Regions from separate parts of the Homo sapiens genome. Here region 2 is linked to region 1. The links come from fine-mapping of genetic effects on gene expression. Tissue or cell type: nucleus accumbens. Region 1 holds a variant in brackets; the other region holds the start of a gene. All regions are shown on one strand. Distances are from middle to middle.

Region 1 (2,685 bases):
TAATTTACTTAATATTTTCTTTAAATTGATCCACTCATACTGCCTACATAAATAGAATTTAAAAGGAAACTTTATACCACAAGTATAAATAGGAAACTATTAATACTTGCCATAAGTAGAAGGGAACTATATTTTAAAATACAATGAAAATAAAGCAAGTTTATTAAATTCTAGCAGGACACTGTTTTGCCAAGTTTCTCAGATTGAAACTGTTCTCTCTTTGTTAAACAGTGAAATTATCATGTGTTAGAGCAGTGTTACAGACATGCCTTTGGGAATCTAAAGAGAACTAGAAAGAGAATCACATTCACATTACAAAAGTCAGTGTTATTTTATTCATTCAGTTACTAAATACCCAGCAAGTGGTTGAGTGGAGTGGATAGTTCTTAGGACTACAAAGGCAAAATTAAATATAATCCTGTTTCCTTGTAGAGCTCATGATCTAGCAGAGAAGACTGACAAGGAACAAGTAAATAAATTTTAAAAAATCAACTTCAGTTTGTGGGAAGAAAAGAAAGCAAAGTATGTGCATAGAGAGGAGTATATTTTGAGTAGGTGTGTGTTGCAATGTGGGGACTGCACCTAGAGTGACCTTCATACTGAGTTTGAGACTCCAAATGGATATTTGAATGGTGACCTGAACTGGGTCTATGTGGAAAGGCTGGGGCTGAAATGATAAATTTAGGGATAGCAGTAGCATAGATGGTGTTCGAAGCCACAGGCCCAAATGCCTAGGTGGCACACGTGCATGAAGGGTGGGATCTGAGGGCTGAGCCCTTGGTCCCCCACATTAACGAGTCAGGAAGGAGAGAAGGAGCCAGCCAGGGAGATGAAGACAGGCAGACCCCTGTGGTCTTCCGTGGTTCTGTGGAAACACAATGAGAGTGCTTGGAAAGGATGGAGCGATTGACTAAAAAACGTTGCTGAGGCATTGAGTCAGATGAGGACCCTTGGGTTTGACAAGATGGCAGCACTTTTGGTGGGACAGTAAGAGTGAACACCTCATTGGAGCGGGTTAAAGAGAGGACAGGGAGCGAGGAAGGGGAGACAGGGAGCACAGTCTTCTCTTGACTTTTTCAATAACAGTGCTGGTGTTGAAGAACTCATCTGCCTGCAGCAGCTCATGAGCCACTCGAAATCAAACTGTGGATCACATGGCCTGAAAATCCACCCTGGATACCCAACCCCTGAGACAGGTAACACCCCCAGGAGGGTGACTTCTAGGTTAGTTTTCCCCCAGGAAGGGTCTTTCCTCTCTGGGAGCTGGGGACCCGGGGGCCCGCACTCAACACAGACGTGTATAGCAGCAGGGCAGGCCCATGCCAGGGCCACACGGCCGCACACAACCCGGGCCCTTATCCCAGAGCACAGTGAGGCGCCGGGCTAGTCATGCTGCAGCATGGATATTTATTGATCTTGATTCACACGATCCAAGAAAAGCTTGGCCACAGAGCCTTTGGTTCA[A/G]TCACAAGGATATGGGGGTTGGGCATGGGCGAAAGAGAAGGAAATGGAATTTAAAGGAATCTGTCTTTAAGAAAATAACTCTTTGTAAACCTGATTTATGGGAGCCTGTGCATGCAATAGTGAAATGCTCTGTAACTCCTTGGAGGTGGTGTGAATAGGGGTTCTGTTAGCCACTGGCGGGACCTCCAGAAGCAAAACATGCCAGGGGGATGGAAGAGCGGCCTTCCTGGAGTCAATCTCTAGCAGGGCCTGCGAGGAAGTGGGGCTTCCTCCTCCAGCCCTCGGACGGCAGCCTGGGAGACGGGAGAGCGCTAACATTGATGTGCATTTTTATTTTGAATGAACAGAGCAATTAAAGTGCACCAGGGCCAGATTTAAGTTTTCTCCTTGGGCTGTTTCGAAGCTGCCTTCAGTCTGACCTCATCTGCACCCACACATTTCCTTTTATAGATATATATATACAAAAGATATAAATACATATATAAAATATATAAATATATATAATATATAAATATATAAATATATATAACATATAAATATATAGAAAATATATAAATATATAAAATATAAATATATAAATATATATAATATATATGAATATGTACATATATACATATAAATATATAAAATATAAATATATAAATATATATAATATATATGAATATGTACATATATACATATAAATATATAATATATAAATATATAAATATATATAAAAATATATATAAATATAAAAATATACATAAATATAAATAAATATATACATATATACATATAAATATAAAAATATATAAAATATATATAAATATATATAAATATATAAATATATGTAAATATATGAATATATAAATATATGTAAAGATATAAATATATAACTATATATAAATATATAAATATATAACTATAAATATATAAATATAAATATATAAAAATGTATAAATATATATATCTATAAATATATAAATATATATAGCTATATATAAATATATAAAAATATATAAACATATAAATATATAAATATATAAAAATATATAAACATAAATATATAAATGAATAAGTAAATATACATAAATATATATAAATATATATAAATAAATAAATATATAAATATATAAATAAATATATATGAATATAAATAAATATATATAAATATATAATAATACATATAAGTATATATAAATATATAATAAATATATATAAATATATAATAATATATATAAA
Region 2 (2,685 bases), 630 kb after region 1:
GCACAGGGCTGGGCCAACAAGTTGGGGGTCCCGGCACAGGGGACAACGGAGAAGTGCCAACATTGGGACCCAATTATGTGATACTGGGGCCCAGAGATAGTACAGGTGCCTCATACCACGTGGCCCTGGGTGGACAGCAGGAATCTATTGCGAGTGGCGGGAGGCCGGGGCTGCCTGTCCTGCGCCCTGAAGCTGGCCAGCGGTTGTGGAAACTGGGGGATATTGAGGGAACCGTAGGCCCAGGTCCTCAGCCTCATAGTGTGGAACCTGGCGATCCCAGGGCCTGGGCTGGCCCCCGGCGTCACGGGACCGGGAAGGCGCTGTGGTGCTGCGGGGAATTGCGGAGAAGAAGGCGGGCTCCAGTGGAGGTGGCTCATCCCCGCACGGTCACTGCCCTCGCCCGCTGTTGGGGTCCGCGGCTGGGAGACTGAAGGCCTCAAGTCGGGCTGGGTAGGGGCACGTGGGCAGGGAAAGGGGTGGTAGATTACCAGTCTTCAGGGGCGGGGCTGGAGATGCAACCCTAGGGAAGGAGTCTACCAGGCTGGGCTCTTGAGGGGCAATGGAGGGCTCCGGGGGCCAGGCCAGGCCAGGATCATGGAGTTCAAAGGACTGGAGTGAGGTTTGGGGTCCATGAGAGTGGAGCTCAGAGGATGGGACGGTGGGTCCAGGATTTGGGACCTGGGGCTGGAAAGTCCGAGGCTAGTGGAGACCAGGCCTGGTATCCCAGACGAAAGGGCCCTATAGGAAACGGGGTCTCGTGGGCGGGATCTGGAGCCAGAGAATTGTGAGAGGCGGAGCTAGGATGGAGAAGGCGAGAGGAAAGGGGTAGCCGCCGGCGCGGAGACCTCAATGCGGGGCGTGGTGCGGAGGGGGAACTGGAGCGAGGGGCACTGGAGCGAGGGGGTGGGGCTACGAGGAGGTGGACTTGAGGGGCTGGGTCTGGGGCCGGAGAATCGTGGGGAGCTGCGCCTATACACCCGGGACGGTGGGGTTGCGTCGGGGAAGTGGGAGTCTTGGGGGTTCGCTGGGCAGCCTGGAGAACAGGCGGTCGTGGTGCGGGCGGGGCCGAAAAGACCGAGGACAGTGGGGACCCGGCCTGAGGAGGGGTCGGGAAGGAGGGGTGGGGGCGCGCGGACGCAGATCCCGGGCCGCGGCGGGGCGGTGGCAGGCTCCAGAGTGGCACGGGCCCAGGTGAGCGAGGTCTCCGCCCGCCGCCCCTCCCGCCGCCCCGGTGCCAGCTGCCCCGCTGGCCCCTCCCTGTACCCGGCGCTTGCTCCGCGGGCCGGGCCGACGGCGGCGGGCGGCGTCTCGCGCCCAGGCCAGGTCGGCTCTGGCTCCATCTTGGGCCGCGGCACCTGGCACCTGTGGCGGCCGCAGGAGCAGCGCTTCCCCCGCCTGCGCGGCCCCGGCGGGCGAGAGGGTGAGAGGCTGGCTCCGCGCGCTCCCGTTGGGGCGGGGGGCGTGGTGGGCGGCACCTCCCCCTTGCTGAGCCTCAGAACCCACTCCTTCCCGCTGCCTGCGCTCAGACCCCCGGCATCCTGGCCCCTGCCCAGCGCCCAGAGCCCCCGGTGGCCGCATCGCACTCCCCGCGCTCCGCCTCTCATTGTCCTGTCCTGTCCCCTCTTCTACGTCTCCTCTGCCCATCCTCCCATTTTCACAAGTCTGTCCGGGACCCTGTCTCCTTCGGCCTCCACCCCTGCTGCCATCGCTCCTCCCTCTCCCCTTCTTCCTTTTCCCCTCCCTCAGCCTACTGCGCCGCCTACCCCGCCCCCAGCCTTGCTGCCCTTTGGCTTCTCCTGTCCCGCATCATTACCCCGGCCCACAGCCCCATTTGCCTGCAGTCGCTGCCTTTGCTCCTGAGAAGGTCTGTAGCCTCGTTTCGGGCCCGTATTGAGCCCCCTTCTCCCTAAGTCCGGGTGGGCTTTGTGCAGGAGGGGCGGGAGGGGAGCTATTCTGGGCGAGGCTGCGTGGTGCGGTGCTTTCAGGCCTTTGGCCCCGCAGCAGGGGCGGCCTGTGCTTGGCGTGCAGAGTGCAGCTGGGTAGACGCTGTTACTGCATACGGGCCTGTGTGTCCCAGGCTGGGGCATGAGTGCTTGTGAGCGTGCAGATAGGGACACACCGGCCGCCTAGGCTGCTTCTAGGCCGGGGCACCCTCTCCACCTAGGTGCCCCCCAGGGATTGTGGGCAAATCCTCCCCAGGGGAGGAAGCTCAGGGGCTGTTGGGCGCCTAGGCCTCTTCCTGGTGAGCAGAGCCTCATCCATGGGGCCACTGACCCCACAGTTACCCCAGAACCCTTTCCTGGCACAGCTTGTGACCCGGGGCATGTAGCCCTTAAGGCACGTTCATTGTGAAGGGCAGGTTTTGTCTCCTCCAAACCCTCCCTTTAGGAATGCTGCCTGCTGCTTTGCCCAGAGTTGGCCCTGAGTGTTCCTATCAGGCCCCGTTCACTCTGGGGTGGATTAAACCACCTCCTGGAGGGTGCTGTATCCCCACTGTGCAATGGGGGTTTGTGCTGTGTGCATTCCTGCCTGGTCCTTGAGAGGTAAGGTCCATATTTTAACATAGAACCAGTTTTCCTGCCTGATCATATAGGTTTGCTTTTCCTGTTTTGGTTTTGCCGGACACATAAGTCATCATCCAAATGCTTGCCACTTAACTAGAGGGGACTTGGGCCAGGCGCTGTG

Direction of the effects. Alleles are on the strand shown, and positions count from the first base shown. SD is a standard deviation of normalised expression in the study named.
In carriers of allele A in region 1, the expression in nucleus accumbens of the gene that starts at base 1,260 in region 2 tends to be higher than with G alone (large effect, 0.87 SD a copy in GTEx).

Evidence for each region. PIP is the estimated chance that this variant, and not a neighbour inherited with it, causes the effect.
Region 2: it holds the start of GPRIN2, and the variant in region 1 is fine-mapped to the expression of GPRIN2 in nucleus accumbens (GTEx, PIP 0.94).

What each region holds. Positions count from the first base shown.
Region 1 is chr10:47,180,250-47,182,934 of GRCh38, reverse strand. No RefSeq gene overlaps it. Among named protein-coding and RNA genes, the nearest start is that of GDF10, 120 kb to the left of the region's middle. The variant A/G (reference allele first, on the strand shown) is at 1,465.
Region 2 is chr10:46,555,233-46,557,917 of GRCh38, reverse strand. GPRIN2 (G protein regulated inducer of neurite outgrowth 2) reads left to right here and starts at 1,260. Exons shown (of 3, transcript NM_001385282.1): 1 at 1,260-1,420. RefSeq lists enhancers at 1-518, 1,224-1,929.